5 linked regions of the Homo sapiens genome follow. The protein of the gene in region 5 purifies or fractionates together with the protein of the main gene of each other region. This does not show direct contact. Each region holds a gene or a part of one and is shown on either strand. Other genes may lie near its edges. The genes, in order: ZNF445, SENP7, DHX16, IL1F10 and SETDB2.

Region 1 (3,519 bases), on a different chromosome or scaffold from region 5:
AAAACCAACTTAAAAAGCCTAAGTGAAAAATAATTATTCTTGCTGCACTTTATGCAAATAATCAGGCCAAGCACAGTAAGGCTAAAGTTTATTTTGTAAACAAATCAGTCCTATCATGATTTGTTTTTAATAAAAATGGGGATTGGAGAGAGAAAATTATGCTTCAAAAGAAAAACTATAGTACAATATTGTAGCTGTTCTTGAGGGTTTTTTTCTGCAGTTTAAACAAAATTCTAAATTCTTTGTGGGTTAGAAGTCCCCAAACTAATACTTTCAAATCTTTGCTTTTAAAATTGGGAATTGTACTCCTCATCCTAGGACTCATTATTTACCTTATAGTAGGCTGTTTCACTTAAATACTGCAGTAAAATTACAGATGAAAATACTAATGTTCTAGCCATGCAAGCCATGAACGCCTGGCCAAGCCTGCGTGAGTACACTCAGACAGTTGCAAAGCAGTTCCACTCTTCTCACGCTGGGGTTCACTCCCATTCCCACTATGTCCCCTGTCAGGAGGAAGAAGCCAGAGCAATCAACAGCCTTTTCCCACCTTCATAACTTACACCTTATTAAGGTGTTATAAAATCCAAAGGGAGGGACTGAAACTGTCATTGCAAAATTATGACTGAGACAGTGAAAGAGATCTAACTTAACTAACTCCATCTTGCTTCTAACCTCCAAGCTGTCCTTGTTCATTCCTGGGCACAGGCTGAACTAACTTTGGGAGAAACTTACAGTTTATAGTTTAAATAAAGACAGTAACAGATCTTTCCCAAAGCAGATCTCCTTCTTGCCTGGAGACTAGATTGCCTTTGCGGGACTAACATTAGCCACAAGATTAGAAATTATGGTTTAGGAGTCATGCAGCTGGAGGTTACAAGATTCTGACCCTCCCTAAACTGCTCCTAAGATCAGTGCTTGAGGTATTTTGCAGCCCCTGCACTTGATGGATTAGCTGGCACAACCCAGATCAATAAACTGGCTCATCTGATCTTGTGGCCCGCCCCCACCCCTCCACCCCCTCCCCCCGAGGAGCTGACTCAGCACAAGACGACAGCTGTGACTCGCTATGATTTCATCTCTGACCAATCAGCACTCCTGGCTCACTGGCTTCCCCCAACCCACCAAGTTATCCTTAAAAACTTTGCTCCGCAAATGCTGGGGGAGACTGCTTTGAGTAATAATAAAACCCCAGTCTCCCACACAGCCGGCTCTGCGTGAATTACTCTTTCTCTATTGCAATTCCCATCTTGAATCAGCTCTGTCTAGGCAGCAGGCAAGGTGAACCTCTTGGGAGGTTATAAAAGTGTAGCATTTGGCCAGGTGCAGTGACTCATGCCTGTAATTCCAGTATTTTGGGAGGATAGTGAGAGTCTGTCTCAAAAAAAAAAAAAAAAAGCATTTTATAGGATGAAATACTCACACACCTAAAAGGAATGTACTAGAATTGTTATACATCAACATAACTGCTTTACTGTACACCAGGTGATAAGGCTCTGTAGCCAAAGTTACAAGGCAACTAGGTGTCACCCAAGGAAGAGACAGTGTATGACTTGAGGTCACTGAGAAAAGACACCACCCCCACCAAGCTCAAGAGGTACAATGTTTACTTATGGAGATGGAGGGTTCACAAGATCCAGCCACTTGCAATGTGTTGGTCCCTCGTGGCCAGCAGAACCACTCCACAGTCTACACAGGTGGTGTGTGTATACACGCTTCATATTGCAGTAGAAAGACCTTAACCCCTCCTCTGTGGGGTCTGAAATGAAGAAAGATAGGAACATGCATGACGGCTGCTGATTCATGCACTCAGAAACAGAACAAAGGAGGCCTGGCATGGTGGCTTGCACCTGTAATCCCAGCACTTTGGGAGGCTAAGGCTGGCACATTACCTGAGGTCAGGAGTTTGAGAACAGCCTGGCAAACATGGCGAAACCCCATCTCTATTAAAAATACAAAAATTAGCCAGGCGTGGAGACGTACAGCTGTAATCCCAGCTACTCAGGAGGCTGAGGCAGGAGAACCACTTGAACCCAGGAGGCAGAGGTTGCAGTGAGCCAAGATCGTGCCACTGCACTCCAGCCTGGGTGACAAAGCAAAACTCCATCTCAAAAACAAAAACAAAAACAAAACAAAACAAAACAAACAAAACAAAGGAGTACATCAAGTGCAGAAAAACAAGATAGTCCCTCACAAGATGTGACACCTACAGTCACAAGATGTTAAACCCAGCAAAGGTTGTGAGGACTCTTTCGCTCTTGTAAGGAAATGTCTCAGGCCCGAGGCCACTCTTTTTTCTCACTCTGTCATCCAGGCTGGAGTGCAGTAGCACGATCACAGCTCACTGCAGCCTCAAACTCCTGGGTTCAAGTGATCCTCCCACCTCAACCTCCTGAATAGCTGAGACTACAGACATGTGCCACCCTCACTCTGCCTGACTTTTTTTTAGCGATAGGGTCTCACTATGTTGCCCAGGCCAGTCTCAAACTCCTGGCTTCAAGAGAGCCTCCTGACTTGGCCTCCCAAAGCACTGGGATTACAGGCATGAGCCACAATGCCTGGCGTCCAAGGACACTCCTACACAGCCAAGTAAGGAGAGAGAAACTGTGCACGACTGCTTTTCCCAACAATAACAAAAATATGTGCTAAGTTTGAAAGCACATCCTAAATACGAATTGTGAAAACAAAACGTACAACCGTGTGTGTGTGTGACTGTATACGCATGTATGTGAATGTACCTATAACTACTCAAAGAAATTTTAAAAGCCTGGAAGGATTCACAAAAACTCTTACTGGTGGTGGGGGTAGGAAGGTAGAGAATTGCATTTAAAAGCAACTTTATATTTTTTTTGTCTTCTATTTCCTAAAAGAAAAGAAAATTGAAAAGCAATTATTAGAAAGCATAGTTATACTGTCATTTATGTCTTAAAGCAAATGAAAAGCAAAGCAGTTTACATATGCACATAAAAGCTCCTAAGCCTCACTACCAAAGTATTTTTAGCCATGATTTCCTCTGGGAGGTGGGATGAAAGGGCTCTCCTTCCTTATTTGCCTATGTTGCCTAAATTGTTACCCATTACATTTATAAACAGCAAAGTGATCAATAATTCTCTTAAGAAGCAAAGCAATTGAGTAGCAACTCGTAGGATTGAAGATGGCAGATGCACAGTAGAAGGGACAGCACATTCTTGAGGGGGGACTTGAGTACAAACCATGGCTTCAGCTCAAGCAACTACAAAAGGATGTTCTCCAGTTGAACAGATGTAAGGAGAAAAAAAAACAGGCAAGTGAGGTAGAGAACAAGAAGAGCAAAATGCTACCAAAACACAACATGCAAAACAAAAATAAAAAACCTATCCAGAAAGAAAACAGAAACAAAGAAAAGGAGTAGCCAGCAACAATGGAAGAAAAAAAATAAAAGTTGAAGAAAAAGAGAAATACAAGCAGTGCTGCCATTAATGTTCCACAGACACAGGATCAGCTGACTCTGTACAGATCACCTGCATCCAGAATTTCTCT
Region 2 (3,519 bases), on a different chromosome or scaffold from region 5:
GCAATGAAAACCATTAAACAGCCTTTAGAATGGGTAAAAGTAAAAAGATTGACAACACCAAATATTGGTGAGAGACTGGAACTCATATACTCTTGCTAAGAGTGTAAATGAGTACATCTGCTTCACCAGCATCTACTGAAGTTAGACACCTGCCTATGCAATGTCCAACAATTACACTTTTAGATAAATAACCAACAGAAATAAGAATATTCAGGTATTTTTGTTCTTAATATCCAAAAACTGGAAACAACCCAAATATCCATCAAGTATGGATAAACATATTCATATAATGGAAAACTGTATAGCAATAAAAGATAATGAATTACTGCTACGCACAATATGGATACATTTCTCAGGCATGCTCAAAGGAAACCAGATGCAGAAGAGTATATGATTCTATTTCTCAGAAATTCAAGAAGAGTTAAAATAAACCTATGGTAACACTAGTTAAAACAGTGATGGGGGCCAGGCATGGTGGCACATGCCTGTAATCCCAGCAGTTTGGGAGGCTGAGGTGGGTAGATCGCTTGAGCTCAGGAGTTTGAGAACAGCCTGGGCAAAAGGGTGAAACCCCGTCTGCATAAAAAAGTACAAAAATTAGCTGAGTGTGGTGGTGTGCACCTGCACTCCCAGCTACTCAGTAGGCTGAGGTGGGAAGATCACTTGAACCAGGCAGTTGAGGCTGCAGTGAGCCATGATGGCACCACTGCACTCCAGCCTGGGCAACAGAGCAAGACACTGTCTCAAATTAAAAAAAAAAAAAGTCACTGAACTATACACTAAAGATATGTGTACTGTATGGTACTTAAAATCAGAAATAATAATAATAACTAATGAAATATAGACTACCCAGAAATCTATATTGCTGAAATGATTTCTTCTAAGTTCATAATACACAGCATTAGTTTCACTACATGCACTTGCTGAGAAACCATGTAATGTTTTCCTGATCTAAAAAATTATTTTTGGGCCAGGCGCGGTGGCTGATGCCTGTAATCCCAGCACTAATGGGAGGCCGAGGTGGTTGGATCACTTGAGGTCAGGAGTTCGAGACCAGCCTGGTCAACATGGGGAAACCCGTCTCTATTAAAAATACAAAAAAAAAAAAATTAGCTGGGTGTAGTGGCAGGTGCCTATAATCCCAGCTACTCAGGAGGCTGAGACAGGAAAATCGCTCAAACCCAGGAGGCAGAGGTTGCAGTGAGCCAAGATCACACCATTGCACTCCATCCTAGGCAACGAGGGCAAAATTCCATCTCAAAAAAAAAAAAAAATTATTTTCACCTCTACACTTAAGCTTTTGATAACTTCAAATAATTTAAATAAACTAGTACTCAAGTTGACTACCAAAAATAAAGAATTTTTTAAATAAGTGATAAGAAAGTATCCTGTAGAAATTCATTTTCTAGTCAATTTTAAATTTAACAAAACACATATCTACATATACACAATGGAATACTATTCCGGAATGAAAAAGGAATGAACTCACGTCTTTTACAGTAACACAGAACTGGAGACCTTCATCTTCAGTGAAACAACTCAGATTAGAAGCTCACACCTATAATCCCAACACTTTGGGAGGCCAAGGCAGGATGACTGCTTGAGCCCAGGAGTTTGGGACCAGCCTGCACCACATGGTGAGACCCTGTCTCTAAAAATATTTATTTGAATTAGCTAGGTACAGTGACACCACCTGTGGTCTCAGCTGCTTGGGAGGCTGAGGTGGGAAAATCGCTTGAGCCCAGGAGGTCAAGGCTGCAGTGAGGCATGTGGAGAATCGCTTGAGCCCAGGAGGTCGAGGCTGCAGTGGGCCGTTTTTGCACCACTGCACTCCAGTCTGGACGACAGAGCGAAACCATTTCAAAAAGAAAAAGAAAAAAGAAAAAAAAAGAACTCAGAAAGTCAAATACCACATATTCTCACTATAAGTAGGGGCTAAATAATGTGTATACACATGGACATAGAGTGTGGAATAACAGTCATTGAAGACTTGGAAGGCTAGGAGCAGTGCAGTGAGGGATAAGAAATTACTTAATGGGTACAATGTACACTATTCAGGTGATGATTACACTAAAAGCCCAGATTTCACCACCACACAATATACCCATATAACAAAGCTGTACTTGTAACCCTTAAATTTATACAAATAAAAAAGTACATGTCATTTTAAAAGGAATGTCAGTTTCTTAAATTTTAATTTACAAATTTATATCCCAAAAATGTCTCACTGGGTTAAAAGTGCTTCCATCCTGTTTTGTAGTATGTTCCCCTATTTCCTTTCATTAATGCTACTGTGAATTCCCAAATATTTATGTTTTTTTCTTCTTGGCCAACTTTGTCTAATAAAAAAATTTACAATTTTTTTATAGCTGACTTGCTCCATCTTATACCAGGTTAGCTCTGGAGTGTTTAAATAAGCATATGATGTGCCTCGACTTGAGACTGTATGGTATAGTTACCATGCTCAAGAGTACATATTTTAAAGCTAGACAACCTAAATTTGTATCTCGGCTTACTAGTTGTGACTTCTCTGAGTCTCAGTTTCTCATCTGTAAAATGGCGGAGAATATCTGCCTTTTTAATCGTTCAGATTAAAGCATGATAGTCCATATTAAGGCATTTAGCATTATGACTAACACATAGTTAGTGCAAAAGAAATGGTAACTATAACATTTTATAGTCAAGTATCTCCCTTTAAAAGACTGTAGTATATTAGCATTAGCATATAGGAAAATCTCTCCAATTACTCTCATTCTAAATATATGAGTCAAAAAACTAAAAGCATAACTTTTCCCACTCATTCACTTATTTATTCCATAATTTTTTTTTTTTTTTTTTGAGACGGAGTCTTGCTCTGTCACCCACGCTGGAGTGCAGTGGCACGATCTCGGCTCACTGCAACCTCCACCTCCCAGGTTCAAGCGATTCTCCCGCTTCAGCCTCCCCAGTACCTGGGACTACAGGCAGGAAGCACCATGCCTGGCTAATTTTTTATGTTTAGTAGAGAGAGAGTTTCACCATATTGGCCAGGCTGGTCTCGAACTCCTGAGCTCAAGTGATCTGCCCACCTTGGCCTCCCAAAGTGCTGGGATTACAGGCATGGGCCACAGCACCCAGCCTATTTATTTGACATAATAGTAATTATCATTGCCTGGAATTATGCTAAGTGCTTTACACAAATTATTTTCCTTAATCCTTATATCATGAAATCAATAATGTATAATCTCCATCTTATAGATTAAGAAATTAAGATTTGAGGAATCCAAATAACTTGCCCAACGTTACCATAGTGATCCATCACCGGTCATATTCCAGAGATGGTACTCTAAACCAGTACACTCTAGGCATACTGGATGCTATGGGGAAATAAAATTAATGACAGTCCCTGTCACAGTGTTAATAGTATAGAAGTAGACATTAGACAACTCAGCAAGCTAGAATATATGATGGAATCTGATAATTATCATATAAGAGGCATAAAGACCAACAGAAGTGCAGAAACAGGCATAAATTTAAGTT
Region 3 (4,047 bases), on a different chromosome or scaffold from region 5:
TGGGTAGCCTCCTTCCCCCTACAACTTAAGAAGGATCCTTCCCTCAACAACATAAGTCTATCCTCAGCTGGCTCCTAACAACCAAGCCCCTCTTCTAGAAACCTGACCACCCCATCAGCATCCACACTGTGCTTCCTCTGTATCCTCTCTCCCTATACACTCTATCAGAAAGTCTTTCCTTTTGTCTTCTGATCTTGGCTCCCTAGGCCCTGGGACTCACCATGGCCTTCCGGTCTTCCTCGGCCATCTTGAGGCGCTTCTGAGCCTCTTCATAAGCCTAGAAGAAAAAACAAGAATGGAGGGGTGTGAGGCCAAAGAGCCCCCACACTGACAGCTGCTCCCCTCTAGAATCACAAGGATCATTCAGATGCGCCCTAACACAAAAAATGTCCCCTCTCAGTGAGGAATCTCTCTGATTGCAGGTACAGCAGACAGTTGTCTTAGCCACAGGATGCACAGGGCTTCTCTCACCACAGAGGTGAACATCTCACTAGAGACAGCCCCTTGTCTTCCCAGAGATCACTATCTCTGCACTCACAGCCAACCTCAGATTTCACCCTGGGATCTTGGGGATTTACAGAACATGCTGCTCCTATTCACCTTCTTGTCTGACCGTTCCAGGACATTTCGAGTCCGATCCTTGTCCCGCTGTCGAACCCGCTCAGCAAAGGCATCACGCTCCTCCAGGTCCTGAAGGCGTTCACGCTCTGTCCGTTCCCACTCATCTTCCGACTCTGGCTTCTCTGTCTGCTGTTTACTCCCCCTGCAGCCCATCCAGGGGATTAAATAAGGGCATAGAGAACACTTCAGCCTGCCCCATCCTCTCTCACCCTGCTTCTGACTTACCCTGTTTTCTTCTTCCCTTTCTCAGAAGCCTCTTCCTCCTCTTCTTCCTCACGCTTCTTCCTGAGGTGTTTCCGCTTTTTACGTTTCTTCTGGAGGCTGCTTCCAGCCCTACTCACAGTCTCCTCACTGCTCTCTTCACTGTCTTCCAGTAACCTATAAGATCGGTTCTTCTCCAGCAGGGCCCGGGCCTCTCGCTCTGCTGCCCGAGCTGGCTTTTCTACCACTGCCTTTCGTGGTACCTGTCAGTAGAGGGGAAGATAAGGAGGTCTGAGCAACTCCTGATCTCTGCCCTCCCACTTAGCTCTGTTCCTAATTTAAGCAATTACTTAGTCTTTCCTGCCCCCGCGGCCCGGCCCCACTGTCAGGCAATGGCGTGATCTCGGCTCACTTCAACCTCCGCCTCCCAGGTTCAAGCAATTCTCCTGCCTCAGCCTCCCAAGTAGCTGAGATTACAGGCACATGCCACCACGCCCGACTATTTTTGTATTTTTAGTAGAGATGAGGTTTCACCATGTTGGCCAGGCTGGTCTCAAACTCCTGACCTCATGATCCACTCACCTCAGCCTCCCAAAGTGCTGGGATTACAGGCATGAGCCACCACACCCGGGCACAATTACTTAGTTTTAAACCAGCTAACCAGCATTCATTCTCTTTCTTCCTCATGGCTTCACCCCATCTTCATCATCCTGAATGGGGTTTTTTATTTTTTTTTACAGACAGGGTTTCACTCTGTCCCTCTTGGGCTCAAGGGATCCTCCCACCTCAGGCTCCTAAGTAGCTAGAAACACAGGTGCACACTACCACGCTCAACTAATTTTTAATTTTTTTGTAGGACGAAGGTTTCGCCATGTTGCCCAGGCTGGTCTCGAACTCCTGGGCTCAAGTAATCCTCCTGCCTCAGCCTCCCGGGGTGCTGGGATTACAGGTGTGAGCCACTGCACCCGGCCCCCTCTGTTAATTAAACGACTGAAAGGAAGTTCAGAAGATGAGGGGGGCCGGGCATGGTGGCTCACGCCTGTAATCTCAGCACTCTGAGGGGGCTGAGAGAGGATTGCTTGAGCTGAGGAGTTAGAGACCAGCCTGCGCAACACACCAAGGCCTCATCTCTAAAAATAAAAATAAAAATAAAAGATATTAGCCGGGGGTGGTGGCGCGCGCCCGTAGTCCCAGCTACCGGGGAAGATGAGGTGGGAGGGTCGCTTCAACCAGGGAGGTCGACGCTGTAGTGAGCCGTGATCTTACGACCGCACTCCAGCCTGGGCGACGGGGCGAGCGAGACTGTGTCTCTCAAAAAAAAAAAAAAGAAAGAAAGAAATGCAGAAACTAAGATCCCTACTGAATCGCAATCTGCATTTTAACAAGAACCTTGGATGCATGTTAAGAGTTCGAGAAACACCGTTCTATTGCGCTTAACCCGACACACCTAAGCCCTCCTCAATCTTCTCCACTGAGCTGGGCGTCCAGCAGCTAGCACAGTACCTACGCGACAACGGACAAAGAATAAGTGCTTGTGAACTGAGCTTTCTTAACTTCTCGATGGACCGTTAGGCCAGCCTCACCGGGACAAATCACAGGGCCCCTCCCCACCCCTGCCGACACCTTGTTCCAGAGTCTCAGGGCGAAGTCCCGGGCCGGCCCACTGAGATCCAAGGTATCAGTGTCTCGTAGGCGCTGCACGAACTCCTCGGCAGAGGTGCAGCGCTGTGCGGTACCGATCAGAAACTGGGCGACGTGCCGCTCGCTCAGCCCCAACACCGAGTGCAGCTCGTCCTGAACCCAGCGCTCCAGACCCGCCGGCGTCGCCATGGCGACTCACGCTCCCTGCTCCCGGCCCTGAAGCGTCGGGCAGCCGCGCTCACTGCTGGGCCGGTCAGAGGCCTGGAGCCCTCGGCTGGAGCCTCAGCTTCGCAAGTCAGCTACCTTGGGACCTCTAGGATCTTCCGACATCCCAAAGCTGTCTTCCCGTACCGCGGAGCCCGGAAGGGGCTGTACTTTTTCGGCCTCTAAGCACTACGGTGGCCGAGCGAGTTCAAACCTCGCGGAACCATACCTGAAAACTCGGGGTAATTCTTTTTTCTTCATTTCGCCTCTGTCCAGTTTCTCTGACGCCCCCTGATGGTCAGTCTGTGAGTGCTTCGCTCACGCATTCATTCAACAAGTGAAATTAATTTAATGGATGCCTAATGTGTGCTCATTGCTTTCCGTCCCTGGGATATAGCAGAGGACAAATCAAAAGTTCCTTACCAAATTTACATTTTGCGGTGGGGGAGGGACAGGATACATAATAAAGAAAGTATGGAAATTTTATAGAGCCAAAAACTATACAAAGTAAGGGAGGAATGAAATTCTATTTCAGATTGGAAGATCGGGTCCATGCTCATAAAACATATTAGCATTGTTGGCCGGGCGCGGTGGCTCATGCCTGTAATCCCAGCACTTTGGGAGGCCAAGGCGGGCGGATTATCTGAGGTCAGGAGTTCGAGACCAGCCTGGCCAAGATGGCGAAACCCTGTCTCTACTAAAAATATAAAAATTAGCCTGGCGTGGTGGTGTGCGCCTGTAGTCCCAGCCACTCGGGAGGCTGAGGCAGGAGAATCATTTGAACATGGGAAGCAGAGTTTGCAGTGAGCCGAGATCCCACCACGGCACTCCAGCCTGAGCAACAGAGGAAGTCTCTGTCTCAAACAAACAAAAAAGTGACCGTTGCTAGGACTGGTTTGCCTGCAGCAGGAGTGAAGACAGGTCAGGTATAAGGGAAGACCTCTAGGCAGGAAGAAACTGGGGAACTGGGGAAAGTTGTTAAAGACAAAATCTCCAAACTAAGGAACAGGCAAACTGTGTTCTGCATTTTTGCTTAACAGCTTGAGAAAATCACTGGTGGCTGCTTATTTAAAAGTAAGCAAGGCCAGGTGCAGTGGCTCTTGCTGTAATCCCAGCACTTTGGGAGGCTGAGGCAGGAGGATATCTTGAGACCAGGGGTTTGAGACCAGCCTGGGCAACAGGGTGAGACCCCACCATCTCTACAAAAAATTAGCCAGGTGTGGAGGTGTGCACCTGTAGTCCCAGCTACTCTGGAGACTGAGACAGGAGAATTTTTTTTTTTTTTTTTGGAGACAGAGTCTCGCTCTGTTGCCCAGACTGGAGTGCAATGGCACGATCTCGGCTCACTGCAACTTCCGCCTCCCAGGTTCAAGTGATTCT
Region 4 (2,706 bases), on a different chromosome or scaffold from region 5:
AGGTTCACTTGTACAATAAAAATAAACTTCCGGAAAGATCCTGGGCGTGTTATCTGGCATTCCCCTTGCCACCTTGACAACCCAGATGTGACAACTCACATGCCAGCAGCATTCTATTTGGAGACCAGAACCCAGATTAGATGCCCTGAAGTGCTGACATCTGCTTTGTCATTTATGTGCTTCCTATGTATGTGTCTTGCTTCCCAGCCAGGCTGTCACCTCCTTGAGACCAGGACTGCTCCCCACCCACCTTGTCCAGGACACAGCCCTGGACATTACAGGGTCCATGGGAGGGGCAGAGGAAATGCATCCCAGAGTCCTCTTTGATTTTTCTTATGCCTCACCTCCTTCCTGAAAGGAGCTTATGACAAAATCACAGACAACAAAGTAGTAAAAGATAAGGAAGGATGCAAATCTCAAATGAGATGAAATGTAAGTAAGTGTTAGAAGCCCACACTGGGAGTAAAGGCCACAGGGACCACCATCAAGATGCTGTCATTGAGATTCAAAACTTTCTGACATTTCAGAGAGGCGGATGGAGCAGCACAGAGGACATGAAGTCTGATTCCTGGCTCTGCCTTTTGGTAGCTGTGTGACATGGGGGAAGTTATTTACCCTCTTTGAGCCTCAGCTTCCAGATCTGTAAAATGGGTTTAATAACACTCCACTTACAGACTTTTTGGAACAGAGATGAGGCAGTAGATTGGCTGGCATCTTGCAGACGTTCAGGAAAGAGCTGTTGCTACTGTGGTGATGATGAAGCTTAATTATGGGGCACTTGCAATTTCTAAGGTGAGAAGGAGCCTCATCCTCTGACTCAGCATTCCTTTCCTCTTCCCACCCTGACCCCCTGGCTTGGAAAGCAGGGACATGCCAGGACAACTTACATGTAGTATCTTGCCATGGGGAGGGAACACATTCCTGCAATCAGTGGTGTCTGGTCCTCACTGATGGGGAGGAGAGAAGGGCAGTTAGAAAAGGAGGCTGGGTGAAGCCAGAGGCAGACGTGCTGGGGCTTAGAACCACTCAGCCAAGGGCTGCACGGGTTCCCCAGGCCATTCGTCTATAATTGGCCTGCCAGAATCCACCAAGGCTTCCACCAGCCCAGCAGGCTCCAGGCAGCTCTGCCTCTCCCTGACTGAGGCTATCCGGGAGCAAGTCCAGCCACCAGGGGTGTGAGCCTGGGATGTGTGTGCTTGCGCTGGTTCTGAGAAACTGGAAAACAGATTCCCCCAAATAGCTGAGCCACAACAATTCCCAGCCCTGAGAGTGGGGTGGAGTGTGCTGTAGCCTCCCTCACAGTTGGAGGATAAGCCCAGCTCAAACCCAGTCCCACTGCCCTGTTGGCCAACAGGGCACCACACCCCCGCCCCCATAACTAGCCAAGGGTTAGATAACTAGAGCCCAGAGTGAAAGAAGAGAGCACAACTAGAAGGGGTCTCCAGCAGCAGTGAGGCTGGTGGGGTCTCCCCAGAGAGTTGGAAAACATCATTCCTAGTGACTAGAAGTGCTTGGCCAAGACTGCCGAAAACAGCCCATCCAAACTCCCCCATTCTGTTCCAGATGGAAAATGGCACAGTGAAGATAGTGGCCCTGTATAAATGCCAGGCCACACAGCCTCACATGACTCTGCTCCTTCCCGATGGGTTATCCTGTCCTAGAGCTCTTCCCTAAAATGAACACCCATTGGAAAGGCCAGTCCAGAATTTAGCATGGAAATAAACCCAGAGCTAATCAGGAGTTGGAAATTAGCTCAGGAAAGTAACGCAAGTATGACTAGGGCTGAGGTTTACCGAGTAGATCTGATTCTCACCAAATAAGAAGGGAATAGAGAAGAAAAAATATAAGAAAGCAGAAAATGAGAGAAGAGAAAGGAAGAAGGCAGGTGGAAGAAAGTAATAGGGCTCAGGGAGGAATAGAGAGATGCTGAGGGACCCTGGGGAGGCAGGTGAGAAGGAACAGGTGGGTGCTGAGGATACGGCTTCCAACCACCTCAGCTCTCAAGTTCCAGAAACAGGGCTGTAGCCAAGGTGGCTTTTAGTACTGGGTCTGTCACTGTCACTTTGGACAAGTCATTTTCTGTCCCCAGGCCTTGGGGTATGACTTTGAGACTTAGAGTGAAGGATAATAGGGACTAACAAGTGCAAATTCTGGAGGGATGTTGGTGCTGTGAATGAAAGTCTTAAAGCATTCTGTATACTTTGTGATTGCATGTGTTTCCCTTACTCTTAGGAAAAATAACGGATTGCCCAAATGTTTACTTACAAAAATGTTCACTGCATAATTTTTTACAATAGCAAGAAGTTGAAAAAAATCTGAATTTTCAGTAATAGGTAATTGGCTAAGAAATTATAGCAAAATTCAATAAATAAGGATGTATGTGTTTGTTAAAGATGATATTATAGAAGCTTGTTTTAGGACATAAAAATTTTCAAAATATATTAGGTGAAAAATGCAGATTATAAATCAAGTGTACACTGTAATTCTATTTAAATCCACACATAGAGACACATACATAGAAATGTTACTCGTGTTGTTGCACCACTTACCTATGGCTTTATGAGTAATTTTTTAAACATATCAACATTTTCCTATAATGAACATGAATTTCCTTTGTAGTATCAAGTAAGTTTCAACATTTTTTAAATGAAGTGTTCAGTTAAAGTCATTGGCTCCTAAATGTGCCTGCCCATCTGCATCACCTGG
Region 5 (3,519 bases):
GCGTGTGCCACTTTGTATTACTATTATTATTTTTTTTTAAGTAGAGACAGGATTTTGCCATGTTTACCAGGCTGGTCTAACTCCTGGCCTCGGCCTTTCAAAGTGCTGGGATTATAGGTATAAGCCACGGTGCCCAGTCAAGGGTTAACAATTCTGATACTGCTACATATATATACTGGAATTGAACAATTAAGTAAATGGATGGTGGGTGATGGGAACTAAGTTTTTTACTACTGGAGTGGGAGCATACAGATAAGGTGAGGAGACTAAAATGATCCACGTGGTAATAGATTAGAGTTGGAAACATCAGCGTAATTTCATGGTTAGCTTAAGGCAGATACAAACAGTTACATATAGAAATATTTATAGCCATGAGTTGTGTATATATAAGTTAGTATATATATATATACTTCATTGCTCTGCCAGCTGAAAGGGCCTATAAACAAGGACACTCCAGTAACAACAAATACACCTATCATTCAGACCTTGGTTTCTAATACCATTTTCCAATAAAAATATTGACAGGTTATTCAAGAAATGGCTCACTCTAAGATGCGTAAGAAATATACGAGAGCAATCTAGAGCAATCTTCGAGTGCCAAAAGGGAAGTGCTATAAAACAAAGACAAATAAAAAATACCTACACTGATGACGGTATATCAAAGGGACACAAGAGCCAACTGAGCAGGACATGGTGGTTCATGCCTGTAATCCCAGCGCTTTGGGAGGCTAAGGCGGGTGGATCACTTGAGGTCAGGAGTTCGAGACCAGCCTGGCCAATATGGTGAAACCCCCATCTCTACTAAAAATACAAAAATTAGCTGGGCGTGGCGGCACACACCTGTAATCCTAGCTACTCAGGAGGCTGAGGCAAGAGAATTGCTTGAACCCAGGAGGCAGAGGTTGCAGTGAGCCAAGATTGCGCTGCTGCACATGAACCTGGGCAACAGAGTGAGACGCCATCTTAAAAAAAAAAAGAAAAAAAAGAGCCAACTGAAAGAGCTCCCAATAGCCAAACCCGGGACAATTTGAAAAACAAAATAAATAAAGTAGTACTGGCTTGTAACTCAAAAAGTATAAAATAAATAGCCATGAGTCCATGCTGATATAAATGATTAACTGAATAAATAAACAGGGAAGAAGAGAGAGAGATAAATCTCCCCTGCAGAAATATTCCAAATATAATTAACGTAGATATTCCACATTTAAGGAGGGGGAGCATAAATCCCCACTCCTTAACTGTGGGCTACCTATAGTGATTTATTTCCGAAGAGTATAGCAGGGAATGGGAGAAAAAGAGTAACTTTACAGTGGAGAAATTTGATACCACCACCTACATTAGCCAGCTCAAGCTCTGTTGATCAAGTTCAATATCAACTCTGAGAAATCATGCTGACAGCATGTACCCTTGATATGATGTGATGAAAATGACATTTTACCTCTGAGATCACACTCCCCAAAACCCATCGCTCCAGTCAAATTATGGAAAAACATCAGACAATAATTCCAACAGAGGGGCATCTTACAAAATATTTGGATACAAAATCCCAAAAAAATAAAAAACAAGAAAAGTCTCAGAAACTATCACAGCTAGGAGGAGCCTAAGCAGACATGACAAGTAAATGGAATGTGGTGTCCTGGATGGGATCTTGGAATGGAAAAAGACATCAGGTAAAAACTAACGTGAATATACTATGGACTTCAGTTAATAATAATGTGCCAATATTGGTTCATTAATTGTAACAAATGTAGCATCCAAATGTAAAATGTTAATCATAGATAAAGCTAAGTACCAGGTTTACTGGAACTCTGCAATCCTCTCAATTTTTCTGTAACACTAAAAGTATTTTGGCCAGGTGCAGTGGCTCACCTATTTTGGCCAGGTGCAAGTGCTGTAATCCTAGCACTTTGGGAGGCCAAGGTGGACAGATCATGAGGTCAGGAGTTTGAGACCAGCCTGACCAACATGGTGAAACCCCATCTCTACTAAAAATACAAAAAATTAGCTGGGCATGGTGGCACATGCCTGTAATCCCAGCTACTCAGGAGGCTGTGGCAGGAGAATCGCTTGATCCCAGGAGGCAGAGGTTGCAGTGAGCCAAGATTGTGCTACTGCACTACAGCCTGGGCGACAGAGACTCCATCACCAAAAAAAAAGAAAAAAAAAAAAGTTTACAAAAAAGTCAATTTTTTCACAACTAATGATAAAGACAGTCAAAATTGGTGGCTATACAAGAATAAACCCTTAATTCCCTCTAATTCAGAAAAGTTCCTCGCAATGCAAAACCTTGACAATTCCACATCAGCTTACATTGTCTATATACTTTTATACTTTTAGATATAAAGTGTAACAGTGTGTTCTTCAACCTACCATTTTTTTCTCCCATCTTTTGATGTCGCTTATAAATATAAAATGCTTCAAAATTAGGTTTATCAAATCACTTTGATTGCAGAATATCACTGGAATCCAACTGTGGTCTCTATAAAATTTGCAGTCCTCAGACAAAATACATCATTATACCATTCTAAACCTGGTATCCTTTGATACTTGAATTTTCAAATAGAAATTGTGGCTGAAGAAACTTTCAGAAATGAGTGACAGTCCAACCAAAAGACAAGTCCATGAATCTTCTCACGTAAATATTTGTAGTGGTATCAGATCATTAACATTATCTTTTTAAAAATAAAAACCAACTCCATCTTTTGGTCCACAAATGGATGAAACATTCTGTAAGGAAAACAATAAAGAATAGTGCATATTTGTAAAGGACCACATATATATATATATATATATATATATATGTATATATAAGGAAATAAGATATTGTTATAACAGCTTGATCTTTTAAAACAGCATGAACCATTACAAAAAAACATTATGTTATCTGGAAAAAATATGTAAAGTATCAAAATTAGAAATAATAGAGAAGGCCCACCCAATCCTATCACCCATATTTAATATATTTGTATTTATATTACTATCTCCATTTTATAAGTCTTTTATAAACCTTTTAAAAAGGGGATAATACTAACTATCTCACAGGTTGTTCTGAGGACAAGACTTAATTACATATAATGTGCCTGACATACGAAAGATTCAAGGAATACTACCAATTATTGTTATTCTTTCAGAATGTAGTTTTAAAACAAAAATTTGGATTGTAGTATATTTAATTTTTTATAATCTTTCATTAAAAACATTTCCTGCATTTTCCTCCATCACTAATATTTTTGTATAATACAACTGGCTGTATAACATACTTTGGTCAATAACGCATACATTATAGTACATTAAATATTTTAATAATTAAATTTTAATAAAAATATTAATTAATAATATAAACCTCTATATTCGATATTTAGATTGTTTTCCTTTATAGATTAATTTTTAGTATAATAAATAATGCTAAAATAAATATACTTTATACATATCTCTGGCAATTTCCCTAGGATAACATATCTGGAGGTAGAATAATAGGTCAAAAATAGATCAACAATTTTAATTCTCAAGATGTTAGTC

The links.
Region 1: the proteins of SETDB2 (region 5) and ZNF445 purify together in Homo sapiens (affinity purification with mass spectrometry; 2 studies listed by BioGRID and IntAct, with this or other methods). This does not show direct contact.
Region 2: the proteins of SETDB2 (region 5) and SENP7 purify together in Homo sapiens (affinity purification with mass spectrometry; 2 studies listed by BioGRID and IntAct, with this or other methods). This does not show direct contact.
Region 3: the proteins of SETDB2 (region 5) and DHX16 purify together in Homo sapiens (affinity purification with mass spectrometry; 2 studies listed by BioGRID and IntAct, with this or other methods). This does not show direct contact.
Region 4: the proteins of SETDB2 (region 5) and IL1F10 purify together in Homo sapiens (affinity purification with mass spectrometry; one large-scale study listed by BioGRID and IntAct). This does not show direct contact.

What each region holds. Positions count from the first base shown.
Region 1 is NC_000003.12:44,467,659-44,471,177, forward strand, and holds part of ZNF445 (zinc finger protein 445), read right to left. Parts: intron 1-3,519. UniProt on the Homo sapiens protein: Transcription regulator required to maintain maternal and paternal gene imprinting, a process by which gene expression is restricted in a parent of origin-specific manner by epigenetic modification of genomic DNA and chromatin, including DNA methylation.
Region 2 is NC_000003.12:101,503,201-101,506,719, forward strand, and holds part of SENP7 (sentrin-specific protease 7), read right to left. Parts: intron 1-3,519. UniProt on the Homo sapiens protein: Protease that acts as a positive regulator of the cGAS-STING pathway by catalyzing desumoylation of CGAS. Desumoylation of CGAS promotes DNA-binding activity of CGAS, subsequent oligomerization and activation.
Region 3 is NC_000006.12:30,670,190-30,674,236, forward strand, and holds the start of DHX16 (pre-mRNA-splicing factor ATP-dependent RNA helicase DHX16), read right to left. Parts: upstream 2,818-4,047; 5' UTR 2,794-2,817; coding exon of another isoform or gene 2,767-2,793; 5' UTR 2,653-2,766; coding exon 2,446-2,652; intron 1,086-2,445; coding exon 847-1,085; intron 764-846; coding exon 601-763; intron 278-600; coding exon 221-277; intron 1-220. UniProt on the Homo sapiens protein: Required for pre-mRNA splicing as a component of the spliceosome. Contributes to pre-mRNA splicing after spliceosome formation and prior to the first transesterification reaction.
Region 4 is NC_000002.12:113,070,952-113,073,657, reverse strand, and holds part of IL1F10 (interleukin-1 family member 10), read right to left. Parts: intron 1,341-2,706; exon of another isoform or gene 948-1,340; 5' UTR 920-947; coding exon 888-919; intron 1-887. UniProt on the Homo sapiens protein: Cytokine with immunomodulatory activity. Alone, does not induce cytokine production, but reduces IL22 and IL17A production by T-cells in response to heat-killed Candida albicans. Reduces IL36G-induced production of IL8 by peripheral blood mononuclear cells.
Region 5 is NC_000013.11:49,450,761-49,454,279, reverse strand, and holds part of SETDB2 (histone-lysine N-methyltransferase SETDB2), read right to left. Parts: intron 2,728-3,519; 5' UTR 2,387-2,727; coding exon 2,371-2,386; intron 1-2,370. Other genes in the region: SETDB2-PHF11 protein, read right to left, coding at 2,371-2,386. UniProt on the Homo sapiens protein: Histone methyltransferase involved in left-right axis specification in early development and mitosis. Specifically trimethylates 'Lys-9' of histone H3 (H3K9me3).